Regions from separate parts of the Homo sapiens genome. Here region 2 is linked to region 1. A link means that fine-mapping ties the variant in region 1 to the expression of a gene that starts in the linked region. Tissue or cell type: whole blood. Region 1 holds a variant in brackets; the other region holds the start of a gene. All regions are shown on one strand. Distances are between the middles of the regions.

Evidence for each region. PIP is the estimated chance that this variant, and not a neighbour inherited with it, causes the effect.
Region 2: RABEPK starts here. The variant in region 1 is fine-mapped to the expression of RABEPK in whole blood (TOPMed, PIP above 0.99).

Annotation. Positions count from the first base shown.
Region 1 is chr9:125,217,119-125,225,223 of GRCh38, forward strand. RABEPK (Rab9 effector protein with kelch motifs) reads left to right here. Exons shown (of 8, transcript NM_005833.4): 5 at 3,421-3,582. Among named protein-coding and RNA genes, the nearest start is that of HSPA5, 20 kb to the right of the region's middle. The variant GC/G (reference allele first, on the strand shown) is at 3,454.
Region 2 is chr9:125,195,802-125,203,906 of GRCh38, forward strand. It overlaps RABEPK (Rab9 effector protein with kelch motifs), which reads left to right and starts at 4,741. Exons shown (of 8, transcript NM_005833.4): 1 at 4,741-5,105; 2 at 7,207-7,265. The coding sequence starts at 7,213. LOC105376271 (a long non-coding RNA gene) reads right to left here and starts at 4,595. Exons shown (of 2, transcript NR_135145.1): 1 at 4,425-4,595; 2 at 3,732-3,854. It also overlaps the pseudogene RPSAP76. RefSeq lists a silencer at 4,619-4,668.

The DNA.
Region 1 (8,105 bases):
CTTGGACTAGTGATTTAACCTCTCTCTGCCTCTGTTTTCTGTCACATTGGATAGTAATAGTTTCTACCTTGTTAATTTGTCAAGGATTTAAATAAACTCAGTATCTGGCACATAATTAATGCTCAGTAATTGTTGTGGTAGTTGATGTAGTTAAGGTTTGGCAAAGGGAAATCAGTTCTGGAACCCTGGCCTTTTGATTTTCAACAATGGTATCCATTGAAATAAAATAAAGTGAGAATTTGGAAAGCTGTCAAAGAGGGTGATTTTATTTTATTTATTTATTTATTTATTTTTATTTTTGAGACAGTGTCTCACTGTGTTGCCAAGGCTGGAGTGCAGTGGCGCAATCTCAGCTCACTGCATCCTCCACCTCTTGGGTTCAAATGATTCTCCAGCCTCAGCCTCTCGAGTAGCTGGGATTACAGGCACATGCCACCATGCCCAGCTAATTTTTATATTAAAGAGGGTGATTTTCTATCATATCCCTTTTCTCTCCTAGAAAATATAATTTGACATCATGCCCAAGAAATATGAAATATGTACTTAGTTGCATTTGTTACCAAGGCAAGTCCCTCAAATGCTCAGGACTCCTTTGTGATTCTTTGTGCTGGTGTTTGAGTTGGCAGGAATACAGCCCTAGGGTCTTCTGGGCCTGGAGGTGACATGTATACCTTTCTAGCTCCCTCTAAGATCCAAAAGCTCTCCAACATCTGTAACTATAGAGACAGCTACATTTTGCTTTGGATATAGGCTGAGACTTTTTCAGTCTCCAGGTCCCCATTTGAGTCCCACACATATTACAGATGTTTCCTGTAGCATTTTATATATTGGATGTAGACCTTTTACAAAAGACAGAATTTCTTGGTGTGTTATGGTAGAGCAAGTGTGGGACTCTGATAGAACTGAGTTCAGGCCCGGCGCGGTAGCTCACGCCTGTAATCTCAGCACTTTGGGAGGCCGAGGCGGGCAGATCAGGAGGTCAGGAGCTCGAGACCATCCTGGCTAACACGGTGAAACTCCGTCTCTACTAAAAAAAAAAAAAATACAAAAAATTAGCCGGGCATGGTGGCGGATGCCTGTAGTCCCAGCTGCTCGGGAGGCTGAAGCAGGAGAATGGCGTGAACCCGGGAGGCGGAGCTTGCAAAGTGAGCCGAGATCGCGCCACTGCACTCTGGGCTGGGAGCCACAGCGAGACTCCGTCTCAAAAAAAAAAAAAAAAAAAAAAAAAAAGAACTGAGTTCAAACTCCTGCTCTGCTACGCACATATGCTATAACCTGCAGGAAAGGATTTAAATGTGCAGAGCTTCAGTTTCCTCATCTAAAAGTAGAGATACTTCCGCTCACTTCCCAAGCTTGAGTGAAGACACCAGGGATGGCAGTGCCCAGGGCAATGATGCTGCCCATTGAGGGTGCTCAATTAATGCATCTGCTTCTATAAAACCCAGGTTCATCCTTAAAAGAAATAAGCTTCTATACATCTATCTAGGTGGTGAAATTTTATTCTCCAGTCAGAGGAGTGGGAATTAGAAAGATCTTGGTGTTACTGAAAGAGTTTAAATTCCAACTCAGCCATTTCTTAGGCATGTCACTTTATCTGTCTCTCTCTCTCTCTCTTTCTCTCTCTCTTTCTTTGCCTTATTCTGTAACCCAGGCTGGAGTTGCAGTGGTGTGATCTTGACTCACTGCAACCTCAACCGCTGCAGGCTCAGTATATCCTCCCACCTAAGCTTCTCAGGTAGCTGGGACTATAGGCATACGCCACCACACCCGACTAATTTTTTTTTGTATTTTTTTGTAGAGACAGGGTTTTGCCATGTTGCCCAGGCTGGTCTCAAACTCCTGGGCTCAAGCAATCCACCTGCCCCAGCCTGCTAAAGTGTTGGGATTACAGGCATGAGCCACCGAGCCTGGCTAGCCATGTCTCTTTTAAAAAGTTACTTAATCCATCCCTACTTCAATTCTCTTACCTGTAAAATGCGGAAATTAATATTTGTTTAGCATTTACTGTTTAGTAGGGACTGTTATTACTGCTACTGAAATGTAATAGTATTGTCTTTTTTTTTTTTTCATTTCTTTCTTTCTTTTTTTTTTTTTTCAAGATATGGTCTTACTCTTTTACCCAGGCTAGAGTGCAATGGCACGATCATAGTTCATTGCAGCCTCAAACTCCTGGGCTCAAGCAATCCTCCTGCCTTGGCTTCCCAAAGTGCTAGGGTTACAGGCCTTACAGCCACTGTGCTCAGCCTAATTTTTTTTAATTTTTAATTTATTTTATTTTATTATTATTATTTTTTAAGATGAAGTCTCGCTTTGTCAACCAGGCTGGAGTGCAGTGGCATGATCTCAGCTCACTGCATCCTCCGCCTCCTGGTTCAAGTGATTCTCCTGTCTCAGCCTCCTGAGTAGCTGGGATTATAGGTCCCCACCACGACACCTGGCTTTATTTATTTATTTATTTATTTTTAGTAGAGATGGGATTTCACCATGTTGGCCAGGCTGGTCTAGAACTCCTACCCTCAAGTGATCCACCCACCTTGGTCTCCCAAAGTGCTGGGATTACAAGCGTGAGCCACTGCACCCCTGGCTGATTTTTTGTAGAGACAGGATATTGCTTTGTTTCCCAGTCTGGTCACAAACTCCTGGGCTCAAGCAATCCTCCTACCTCGATTTCCCAAACTGCTGAGGTTACAGGTGTTAGCTGCTGCACATGGCCTGCCTACTTTCTTTTATTGGCCACATTTTCTGGGAAATCTGGCACACCTGGACTCTGGCATCTAGTGGGAATGAATGTTAGCAGATGTTAGGGGGAGCGATAGTGAGCAAAGTAGAAGAGGGTTCAGAGAGGATATTTGAAGGCCTCCAAAACAAATTGACCTCTTTTTTTTCTTCTTTTTTTTTAATATGGAGCCTTGCTCTGTCACCCAGGCTGGAGTGCAGTGGTGCAATCTCAGCTCACTGCAACCTTCACCTCCTGGGTTCAAGCGATTCTCCTGCCTCAACCTCCTGAGGAGCTGGGATTACAGGTCCCCACCACCATACCCGGCTAATTTTTCAGATTTTTAGTAGAGATGGGGTTTTACCCCATGTTGGCCAGGCTGGTTTCGAACTCCTGACCTCAAGTGATCCGCCCGCCTTGGCCTCCCAAAGTGCTGGGATTACAGGCATGAGCCACACTGCACCCAGCCTGACTCCATTCTTGTGCTTACAGCTTTTAAATCTTGGGGATTTTGGACTGTCTTGGCAAATCCTAAGTATCATCTTCATTCTTCCTTGATGTTTGTGAGTATGAGATCCCTGCCCAAAACTATGCTGGCCCCCCTGGGGATTGGAGTTTGGAAACTGACTTCACTCAGCCCCAGAGTCAAGGTCAGAAGCCCCTCTACCTGGATATTTTAAGTGCCTGCATTCTCTCTGGCCCAGAAACCAGGACGTGGACCACGCCAGAAGTGACCA[GC/G]CCCCCACCATCCCCAAGAACATTCCACACATCATCGGCAGCCATTGGAAACCAGCTATATGTCTTTGGGGGCGGAGAGAGAGGTGCCCAGCCCGTGCAGGACACGAAGCTGCATGTGTTTGACGCAAGTATGGACTGGTGGGCACCTTGGGGCTGGTCAGGGCCATCCCAGTTTACACATTACCTAATATAGGAAGCAGAAGTTAGAAAAGGAAAGCCTGACTAAGTGTCTCACTTCTAGACTTCTTTGTTATATCTCTTAGCTGATATCTTTTTCCCACAGCAAAATTGGCATTTAAAAAGGGATAGTGAGGCCTGGCATGGTGGCTCACACCTGTAATCCCAGAGCTTTGGAAGGCTGAGGCAGGTGGACCGCTTAAGGTCAGGAGTTCGAGAACAGCCTGGCCAACATACCTTTTCTCTACTAAAAACACAAAAATTATCCGGGCATGATGGTATGCACCTGTAATCCCAGTTACTCAGGAGGCTGAGGCAGGAGAATCGCTTAAACCCAGGAGGAGGAAGTTTCAGTGAGCCAAGATTGGGCCACTGCACTCAGCCTGGGCAACAGAGCAATACTCCATCTCAAATAAATAAATAAATAAATAAATAAATAAATAAATAAATAAAACTAAAAAGGTAGGCCGGGAACGGTGGCTCACGTCTGTGATCCCAGCACTTTGTGACGCCCAGGTGGGAGGATCACCTGAGGTCAGGAGTTTGAAACCAGCCTGGCCATCATGGCAAAACCCCATCTCTACTAAAAATACAAAAATTGGCCGGGTGCAGCGGTGGGTGCCTGTAATCCCAGCTACTCGGGAGGCTGAGGCAGGAGAATCACTTGAACCCGGGAGGCGGAGGTGGCAATGAACCAAGATCGTGCCATTGCACTCCAGCCTTGGCAACAGAGCGAGACTCTCTCAAAAACTAAATAAAAAAATAAAAAGGTATAATGATCAAGTTAAAAAGTTTAAACCATACAATTTATAAAGTAAAAAAGTAAAAGAAAGAATAAGAAAGACAAAAAACAAACAGAAGTAAAAGATTCCCCTTCAGCCTTTCCTTTCCCCGCCTCAGGTACATGCCTGGGTGATTTTTTTTCTTTTTCTTTTTTTTTTTTTGAGATGGAGTCTCGCTCTGTTGCCCAGGCTGGAGTGCAGTTGCCCGATCTCGGCTCACTGCAACCTCCGCCTCCCGGGTTCAAGCGATTCTCCTGCCTCGGCCTCCCAACTAGCTGGGATTACCAGCATGCACCAACATGTCCATCTAATTTTTTGCGTTTTTAGTAGAGACAGGGTTTCACCATGTTGGCCAGGCTGGTCTTGAAGCCTGACCTCAGGTAATCTGCCCACTTCAGCCTCCCAAAGTGCTGGGATTACAGGCTTGAGCCACTGCACCCGGCCAGATTTTTGTATTTTTATTGTAGAGATGCAGTTTTGCCATGTTGCCCAGGCTGGTCTCAAACTCATGAGCTCAAGCAATCTGCCTGCCTCTGCCTGCCCACCTCTGCCACCACACTCAGCCAAAATTTTTACCTTGCAAAGTAAAATTGGGAAAATTAAGAGATAGCACATTCCCAAGCCAGAGTATTTGGGAAAAAAAAAAAAAAAGACACATCACAGTGTGACTTTTCTCTTTCCAGAAAGAATGGGCTTTGTGATTCTTTTAAAGCAGTTTTAAAAGTTTAAATAATATTGGTTTTGAATATATAAAACTATAAGGAACAAGAAAAAAAACATATGTATGTGTATATGTGTGTGTGTGTGTACATGTGTATGTACTATCACCCCAAAATTAAATTACTGTTAACATCTCAGTGTATTATCAATCTTTTTTTTTTAAGAACAGAGATAATTCAAACCAGATGTGGTGGCTCACGCCTGTAATGCCAGGACTTTGGGAGGCTGAGGAGGGCAGATTACTTGAGGTCAGGAGTTCAAGAGCAGCCTGACCAACATAGTGAAACCTCGTTGCTACTAAAAATACAAAAAATTAACTGGGCGTGGTGACGCACACCTGTAATCCCAGCTACTTGGGAGGCTGAGGCATGAGAATCACTTGAACCCCGGAGGCGGAGGTTGCAATGAGCCGAGATCTTGCCACTGCACTCCAGCCTGGGTGAGGGAGCAAGACTCTGTATCAAAAAAAAAAAAAAAAAAAAAAAAGGACAGAGATAATTCTATATGTTACATTTGCATCCTATATTTTTCACTTAAGCATTGTTCCATGCAATCAGAAAGTCTTCACCAGCATTTTGAAATGATGATTATTATATAAATATTAGAGTCAGGGTCTCACTGCATTGCCAAGGCTGGTCTCAAACTCCTAGCCTCAAGTGATCCTTCAGCTTTGGTCCCTCAAAGTGCTGGGATTACAGGCATTGAGCCACACCACCCGGCCTTCACCATCATTTTTAATAAGTGCTTAGGCCAGGCGCGGTGGCTCACGCCTGTAATCCCAGCACTTTGGGAGGCAGAGGCGGGTGGATCATGAGGTCAGGAGTTCGAGACCAGCCTGGCCAAGATGGTGAAACCCTGTCTCTACTAAAAATACAAAAATCAGCCAGGAATGGTGGCGGGCGCCTATAATCCCAGCTACTCAGGAGGCTGAGGCAGCAGAATTGCTTGAACCCAGGAGGCAGAGGTGGGTGGATTACCTGAGGTCAGGTAATCCTGGGCAACATGGTGAAACCCTGTCTCTACTAAAAATACAAAAAATTAGCTGGACGTGGTGGCAGGTGCCTGCCTGCCACCCTCTGCTGCAATCCCAGCTACTAGGGAGGCTGAGGCAGGAGAATCCCTTGAACCTGGGAGGTGGAGGTAGCAGTGAGCTAAGATCACGCCACTGCACTCTAGCCTGGGTGACAGAGCAAGGCTCTGTCTCAAAAAAATAAATAAATTTTTTAAAAAGTGTGTAATATTTCCTCATGGCTATACTAATAATTAAACCTGCTCATGGACACTTAGGCTATTTCCAATTTTTGTCTATTATAAACAATACTGTAATGAACAAGCCAGGTATGCTGACTCATGCCTATAATCCCATCGGCTCAGGAGGCTGGAGGACCGCTTGGGCCCAGGAGTTTGAGGATGTAGTGAGCCATAATTGCACCACTGCACTCCAGCCTTTGCAGTAGAGCGAGACCCTGACTCTAAAAAAAAAAAAAAAAAAAAAATGCTATAAGGAACATATTTATGCAGAAACCATTTCAGGTAATTTTAAATTAAATTCCTTGGGACACTGGGGACTCCTTGAACAACCAGCAGGCATACCATAAACAGTAATTCAAAGACAAATTGTTTGGCAGACCTTTGTTTCAAAGAGTTTTTGCAGGCTGGGCGCAGTGGCTCATGCCCGTAATCCTTTGGGAGGCCACTTTGGGACACCAAAGCAGGTGGATCCCTTGAGGTCAGGAGTTCAAAACTAGCCTTGACAACATGATGAAACCCTGTTTCAACTGAAAATACAAAAAATTATCCAGGCATGGCGGCAGGTGCCTATAATCCCAGCTACTCGGGAGGCTGAGGCAGGAGAATCGCTTCTCCTGGAGGAGGCAGAGGTTGCAGTGAGCCAAGATCGCACCACTGCACTCCAGCCTGGGCAACAGAGCAACACTCTATCTCAAAAAACAAAAACAAAACAAAAAAAAAAAACAACAGAGTTTTTGCAGTACTCCTTTAAGACTTTTCTGGTATATAGAAATGATTAATTTTCCAGAATTCTATATATGTACAGCTTTGAAGATAAGAAGGGTTGCCTGTAGTAAAACGTAATAATCATCATATTCATAACTCTCATGTATTGGGTACTTTTTTTTCCTTCATGCTTTATGTATATTATCTCATTTAATTCATACCTCAGCTCTTAAAAGTAGGTATTGTCTTTTTTTTTTTTTTTTGAGATGAAGTCACGCTCTGTTGCCCAGGCTGGAGTGCAATGACACAATCTTGGCTCACTGCAACCTCCACCTCCCGGGTTCAAGCAATTCTCCTGCCTCAGCCTCCCGAGTAGCTTGGACTGCAGGCACATGCCACCACGCCTGGCTAATTTTTAAAATATTCTTAGTAGAGATGGGGTTTTACTGTGTTAGTCAGGATGGTCTCGATCTCCTGACCTCGTGATCCGCCCATCTTGGCCTCCCAAAGTGCTGGGATTACAGTCATAAGCCACTGCGCCCGGCCAGTATTGTCTGTATCCTTATTTTACAGCCATAGAAACTGCAGCTTAGAGAAGTAATTGGTGAAAGGCCACATAGTTATATAGTGAGATAACCTGGTTTCAGCTCCAAATCCCATATTCTAACCATTATCCTATACTGCCACATCAGGAGTCCCTGCTAACTTTTATTTAAGACTAGTCTGTTTTTTTCCCCAACCCCTTCAGCAAATCAATTAAGTCTAGCAGGATGCAGTGGTGTGTGCCTATAGTCCCAGCTACTTGGGAGGCTGAGGTGGGAGGACCACTTGAGCCTAGGAGTTCCAGTCCAGCCTGGACAACATAGCAAGACCCCATCTCTAAAAATAATAATAAGACTGGGTGTGGTGGCTGACACCTGCAATCCCAGCACTTTGGGAGGCTGAGGTGGGTGGATCACTTGAGCCCAGGAGTTCAAGACCAGCCTGGGCAACATGGTCAATCCCTATCTCTACTA
Region 2 (8,105 bases), 21 kb before region 1:
ACAGCAAGGGCTCTGGACATTGTGAAAGTTTCCCTTTAAGTTATGATGGGAATCCATAACAACCCCATATGGACCCCTCTGTGGGTAGCATAGAAAACTGGCTGTTTTTCTTTCTTTCTTTCTTTCTTTTTTTTTTTTTTTTTTTTGAGACAGGCTGTCGCCTTTTTTTTTTTTTCTGTCACCTAGGCTGGAGTGCAGTGGCACAATCTCGGCTCACTGCAACCTCTGCCTCCTAGGCTCAAGCAGTCCTCCCACCTCAGCCTTCCAAGTAGCTGGGATTACAGGCATGCATCTCCACACCTGGGTAATTTTTGTATTTTTAGTAGAGACGGGGTTTCACCATGTTGGTCAGTCTGGTCTCAAACTCCTGACCTCAGTTGATTGGCCCACCTCGGCCTCCCAAAGTGTTGGGATTACAGGCATGAGCCACTGCGCCCAGCCACAATTCACTCTTAATCTCTGAACCTCAGTAATTGGGAATAAATCCTATTCAAGATACCTTCTCAGAAGTGGGAAGGAAGACAAATAGGGAGATGGATGTGAATGTTCTTCATAAACTGTAAAGTGCTTAAAAGGAAGGTCTCACCGGCATTCATTACTTCCCTTGCTGATGCATCAGTAAAGAGGTCAGTGGTGTGCTGTTCCAGTGAAAATAGGTGGCAGTCCTCACATGACCACACTATCTGACAGGAGGAAGCTCCCTCCTGCAGACCCACCTCATTGAGTGAACATCATTCTTCACATCCACAGCAGAGAGAAAAGAAGAAAGCGTGCGTCAGAGTGTTGGGCAAGCTTTTAGGAGAGGTGTTAGACACTTCCAGTGGTTTGGTATGGAGATGGGGTAACAGAGCTTGATGACTGGAATGCATTCTTAGTCTTCCTTGCAAGAAATAAGAGATCTGGGTTCCTGGGTTCCTGGTTCTGCCATTTTATGTGGGGTAGTTATTTTAACTTCTCTGGGCCTTGATTTCCATTTTTAAAAATACATCTCTTGCCAGGCACAGTGGCTCACACCTGTAATCCCAGCACTTTTGGAGGCAGAGGTGGGTGAATCATTTGAGGTCAGGAATTCAAGACCAACCTGGCCAACATGGTGAAACCCTGTCTCTACGAAAAATACAAAAATTAGCCAGGCATGGTGGTGCGCACCTGTAGTCCCAGGTACTCAGGAGGCTGAGGCAAGAGAATTGCTTGAACCTGGGAGGCGGAGGTTGCAGTAACCTGAGATCATGACACTGCACTCCAGGCTGGGCGACAGAACAAGATTCCATCTCAAAATAAGTAAATAAATAAAAATAGAAATAGAAAATACATCTCAGGCAGCCTGGCGCAGTGGCTCACGCCTGTAATCCCAGAACTTTGGGAGACCGAGGTGGGTGGATCACGAGGTCAGGAGTTCAAGACCAGCCTGGCCAAGATGGTGAAACCCCGTCTCTACTAAAAATGCAAAAAAAAAATTAGCTGGGTGTGGTGGCGGGTACCTGTAATCCCAGCTACTTGGGAGGATGATGCAGAGAATTGCTTGAACCCGGGAGGCGGATGTTGCAGTGAGCCGAGATCATGCCACTGCACTCCCCCAGCTTGGGCGACAGAGCAAGACTGTCTCAAAAAAAAAAAAAGAAAATAGATCTCAGGCATTCCACATTCTCAAATGTGATTTCTAGTCTAAAAGCATAGGTTCAGCAGGCACGGTGGCTCATGCCTGTAATGCCAGCACTTTGGGTGGCCAAGGCAGGTGGATCATCTGAGGCTAGGAGTTCAAGACCAGCCTGGCCAACATGGTGAAATGCCGTCTCTACTAAAAGTACAAAAATTAACCATACGTGGTGGCCACGCCTATAATCCCAGCTACTTGGGAGGCTGAGGCAGGACAATTGCTTGAACCCAGGAGGCGGAGGTTGCAGTGAACTGAGGGCGCCACTGCATTCCATCCTGGGCGACAAATCGAGACTCCGTCTGTAAATAAATAAATAAATAGGTCCCGCAGTGAAAACTGGCTGCTATTTTGCCCACAAACCTCTTCCAATTTTTCTTGTTGATGTGCCACTCCAGCATGGCACCTTGAAACAGAGCTAGCCAGAAAACACCGGGGACATCAGAGCATTCTGCAGCTGTGAGCAGAAATGTACGTGGAGATGCACATGGACATATGGCAGAGCTAACCTGGACTTGGTTTTCTTTCCTGAAGGAGAGCAGAATGACTGAATATCCCTAAACTTCTCTTTGGCAGACAGTCAATGGGGATTTTTCCACTAAAGTGGGAACTCACAAAGACTCCATATGTTTGAAAGAGCCGCAGACCTTGAATTCCATTTTGTCAATAAATTTTGGTTATGGTTTCAAGTAGCTAAAATATTCCTTTCACCAACCTGGCCTTTCACCTGTATTAGCACATCCTCTGAACAGTTCTGTCTGCACAGCAGGTAATACTATCATCATTCTATAGATGAGGAACTAGGGTTCAGAGTGGGTAACTTGCCAAATGTCAGAGTTAGATGGTTAGTGCTGGACCCTGGATTTTTTTTTTTTGACAGAGTCTTGCTCTGTTGCCCCGGCTGGAGTGCAGTGGCACGATCTCGGCTCACTGCAACCTCCACCTCCTGGGTTCAAGTGATTCTTCTGCCTCAGCCTCCTGAGTAGCTGGGATTACAGGCAAACGCCTGGCTGATTTTTTTTTAGACAGAGTCTTGCTCTGTTGCCCAAGCTGGAGTGCAGTGGCATGATCTTGGCTCACCACAACCTCTGCCTCCCGATTCAAGCAATTCTCCTGCCTCAGCCTCCCGAGTAGCTGGGACTATAGGTGCGCATCACCGTGCCTGGCTAATTTTTGTATTTTTAGTAGAGATGGGGTTTCACTATGTTGGCCAGGCTGGTCTTGAACTCCTGACCTCGTGATCTGCCCTCCTTGGCCTCCCATAGTGCTGGGATTACAGGCATGAGCCACCACACCCAGCCTGGAGCTTGGATTTTAACCCAAGTATGTTTGATCTCTTCCCACTAAGCTACCATAGCTCTATACTCCAGGAGCTCCTGTTTCTAACCTGAGCTGTTTTCTCTATTTTCTAGGACACAGCGACAGTTTCAGAGACTGGAGTTCTTTGAAACAGACATAAGAGAGCAAGCCACCTCTCTATTTTCAGGAAAGACACAGAGAACCTATGGTTATGAACTAAAACAAAGATAATGTAGATTCTGAATATGTCTAGAGACATTGTTCATTTATAGTCAGGAATAGCTTTACCCTTGACAGAGAACTCTGTGCCAGCTGCTGGGTGCTGAGCACTTTTATTTACATTATGTCATGTATTCCCCACCACAACTACTACATACATCTCTCTTTTTTTTTTTTTTTTCTTGAGACGGAGTCTGGCTCTGTCACCCAGGCTGGAGTGCAGTGGCACTATCTCGGCTCACTGCAACCTCCGCCTCCCAGATTCAAGCAATTTTCCTGCCTCAGCCTCCTGAGTAGCAGGGATTACAGGCGCCCACCACCACGCCTAGCTAATTTTTGTGTTTTTAGTTGGGGGGGGGGGCGGGGGCGTTCACCATGTAGGCCAGGCTGGTCTCGAACTCCTGACCTCGTGATCCGCCCGCCTCGGCCTCCCAAAGTGCTGGACTTATAGGCGTGAGCCACCGCGCCCAGCCTATGATAGAAATCTTATTAGCTCCATGGTTACAAACAGACAACCCTGAGGCCTGGAGGAAAGTAACTTCAGAACAGATACTCTCCTGGCTGAACTTTATATTTATTGCACTCTTGGCAGTCGTCCCTAGTTGTCTTTTTCTTTGATCTCTCTCTAGTTAAGACTTGCTCCTGGAGGCAAAGCGTGGTGGTGTCTGGCTCAGCATAGCACCTGCCATAATTACAAATGGCAATTATGGAATGAATCAGCTGTTTAAAGCACCAAATCTTGAGCTGGCCCGAAGACTGCGCAGGAGGATTGCATGCTCAACTCTCCCCTTTAGAAACTGTTAACAATCGTTGTGGCCGGGCGCGGTGGCTCACGCCTGTAATCCCAGCACTTTGGGAGGCCGAGGCGGGTGGATCATGAGGTCAGGAGATCGAGACCATCCTGGCTAACAAGGTGAAACCCCGTCTCTACTAAAAATACAAAAAAAATTAGCCGGGCGCGGTGGCGGGCGCCTGTAGTCCCAGCTACTCGGGAGGCTGAGGCAGGAGAATGGCGTGAACCCGGGAAGCGGAGCTTGCAGTGAGCCGAGATTGCGCCACTGCAGTCCGCAGTCCCGCCTGGGCGACAGAGCGAGACTCCGTCTCAAAAAAAAAAAAAAAAAACAATCGTTGTAACTGGAAATGTAACTGTTATACCCTCCCCCCCTTTTATTTATTTATTTTTTTGAGAGGGAGTTTTTGCGCTGTTGCCCAAGCTGGAGTGTGGTGGCGCCCAGCCCTGTTAGCCCCTTACAGAGTAGATCAGCTGCCGCAGGCATCTGAGTTCCCCAAACGGACGCCCGAACCCGGCATTGCGCAAATCGTTTCCAAGTAGCCCCGGCTTATTTATCCCGTCCGGGAGGGAGGGACCCAGGGAAGGCCCACCCCACTTGGTTCCCGAGAAATGCAGAGCCTGGCGTCCACTCCCGGTCTGGGGGACCCCTCCACCGCCAGCCCAGGAAGTCAGCGCCGGGCCCTCGGGGCGGAGCAGGGAAGAGGGAGCGGTTGGCCCGGACGCTCTTCCGGGTCCTGGGAGGAGGGCCCGGACCTAAGCCCCGCCCCTCCGGGGTGGAGTCACGGCTCGCGACTGGCCTAAGTCGCCGCAGGTATTGCAGTCCGGGGCTGGAGGGTAGGGGCGAGGGTCCCCGGATACCGGGTCTATCACGGTCTCGGGCAGGGAGTCTGAATCTTTTAGGGGAGTGGGCCCAAGCCGGGTGCAAAGAACGGGGAAGGGCCTTCCCTGGCTCCGTCCCGGCCACTTTGACCGAATCAGCCTGTTCTTTCCCGACCCCGTCTCCTATCCCCTAGAACTGCCACGTGGGGATGAGATTTGCTGGGCTGGTAGCGGCGGCTGCTGCGGGAGGTCCCGCCCACGTGAAGCCAGCCTAACTGAGCTCTGGACTTTGGGGACAGCTGTCAGTGGCCTAGGCCGCAGGTGAGATTTATCCATTCATCTCTCAATCTATTTTCTTTCTTCATTCACTAGCCACTCCCCCACTTCTACTCCATGCCAGGTCCATTGGTAGGTTCTCGGAATGGATCTGACAGGCCCAGCCCTCTAGGAACTTAGTCTAGTGGAATTTAATCTAGAATCTAGTCTAGAAGCCTTAAATAGATAAACATTCCAAATGATTCCTGCAATGGTGATGGCTAATACCTTCAGAGCCCAGTGGGTGGAAGAAGGAAGTAACTTGGATGTGGGTGGAAGAGAAAAGGGCAAATCAGGGAAGGTTTCACCAGGGAAGGGACTTTTGAACTGGGCTTTGAAGGTTAACTAGGAGTTTGCAAATTTCCCAGAAGGGAAGCGACATTCCAAATAGGGGAAGCAGAACAGGCTGCAAAATTATGAAAAGGCCTGCCATATTACAAGAACAGCAAAAAAACCAATAATGCAAGAGATTGTGGAGGTGAGTTCACGGGAAAAAAGCTCAACAGCAGAAGGCCTTACTTTCTATGCTATGTTGAGGCCAAGATTTATCCCAGAGCTCAGTATTTCTCAGCTTCTTTAAATATTTTGTCCTTTGAGCGGAGAGCAGTGGCTCACACCTGTAATCCCAGCTTTTTAGGAGGCTGAGGTGGAAGAATTGCCTGAGGCTAGGAGTTCGAGACCAGCCTGGACAACAAAGCGAAACCTCCATTTCTATTTTTTTTTCTTTTTTTGAGGAGGAGTCTTGCTCTGTCGCCAGGCTGGAGTGCAAGTGGCGCAATTTCGGCTCACTGCAACCTCCGCCTCTTGGGTTCAAGCAATTCTCACGCCTCAGCCTCCTGAGTAGCTGGGACTACAGGCGTGGGCCACAACGCCCAGCTAATTTTTTTTGTATTTTTAGTAAAGACAGGGTTTCACCATGTTGGCCAGGATGGTATCGATCTGACCTCATGATCCGCCTGCCTCGGCCTCCCAAAGTGCTGGGATTACAGGCGTGAGCCACTGCTCCCAGCCCCGTTTCTATTTTTAATTAAAAAATAAATAAATGGCCGGGCTCAGTGGCTCACGCCTGTAATCCCAGCACTTTGGGAGGCCGAGGCGAGCCAAGTTCAAGACCAGCCTGGCGAACATAGTGAAACCCCATCCCTACGAAAAATACAAAAAAAATTAGCCAGGTGTGGTGGCACTTGCCTGTAGTCCCAGCTTACTCTGGAGGCTGAGGCAGGAGAATAGCTTGAACCCGGGAGGCAGAGGTTGCAGTGAGCTGAGATCCTGCCACTGCACTCCAGCCTGGGTGACAGAGTGAGACTCCATCTCAGAAAAAATAAAAATAAAAAATAAAGCCAGGCACGGTGGCTCATGCCTGTAATCCCAGCACTTTGGGAGGCTGAGGCGGGCAAATCACCTGAGGTCAGGAGTTAGTGACCAGCCTGGCCAGTGTGGTAAAACCCCGTCTCTACTAGAAAAGCTAGAAAAATGAGCTGGGCGTGGGTGGGCACCTGTAATCTCAGCTACTCAGGAGGCTGAGAAAGGAGAATCATTTAAACCTGGGAGGGGAAGGTTGCAGTGAGTGGAGATTGCACCACTGCACTCCAACCTGTGCAACAGAGTGAGACTCTATCTAAAAATAATAATAAAGATAAATACATAGGCCAGGCACGGTGGCTCACACCTGTAATCCCAGCACTTTGGGAGGCTGAGGCGGGTGGATCAGCTGAGGTCAGGAGTTCGAGACCAGCCTGACCAACATGGTGAAACTCCATCTCTACTAAAAATAGAAAAATTAGCTGGGCGTAGTGGCACATGCCTGTAATCCAAGCTACTCGGGAGGCTGAGGGAGGAGAATCGTTTGAACCTGGGAGGCAGAGGTTGCCATGAGCTGAGATCTTGCCATTGCACTCCAGCCTGGGCAACGAGAGCTAAACTCCATCTCAAATAAATAAATAAATAAATAAATAATAAAAATAAAGATGAAAAGTTGGTGATTCTTATTCAAATCAATCAGGCCTAGAAATTAGTACATTCAACAGGAAAGGTTTAAAAAGGAGGTTGAATTGATTAAGATGATAATCATAAGTGTCTAAAAAGTGCCTTTCTTTCTTATGCATAGGACACCATGAAGCAACTGCCAGTCTTGGAACCTGGAGACAAGCCCAGGAAAGCAACATGGTCTGTAAGGAAGGATCCAGACACAGAAAAGCATGAGTTTTTGTTTCATTTATAAGTAGTTTATTTACATATTTGATCATCAACAAAAAGGGGTAGAGATGAAACTGTCTGCAGTTTCTGGTAATTAGACTCAAACTGTCTGAGAAAGTCTTCAGAGGAAAGATAGGGGGGCAGTAATTATCACAGAGCAGATGTTAATTTTATTAAAATCCATTTACCAGAAAGAGTAAGGCACTGACCATCTGGCATCCTCAGCTCCAATGCTGTGTCTTCCCCCGAGCTCTGACTCATTTTTAAGATTTTTAGGAAATTAGATTTGGATTAAACTGGCTTCACTGTTTCTTGGCTGTTTGTTCAAACAACCCTTTATTCAACAACTAACATTGGCCTGATGGGGGCAGCTGCTCTGTGGGTGCTGGAGGTAGAATTGTAAATAGTCTCTGTGTACTGGGGACTACAGACTAAGCAGGTGATGGTGATAAAATGTGATCTGCTCTGAGTCAGGGCCCACAGAAGGTTGTAGAGAGGTGGCAGTTCTTCAACAGGACCTTGAAGGAGAGACTCCAGACTGGCTTCCATGCATCTGTCTTGCTCTGTACCCAGAATACAGCCAATCATGGCATTTCCTAGTTTAAAACCCTTTTGTGCCTCCCTGTTGGTGTTGGGATAAAAATCAGACTCCTGGGCTGGGCACGGTGGCTCATGCCTGTAATCCCAGCACTTTGGGAGGCCAAGGCGGGTGGATCTCCTGAGGTCAGGAGTTTGAGACCAGCCTGACCAATATGGTGAAACCCCATCTCTACTAAAAATACAAAAATTAGCTGGCATGGTGTTGTGCAA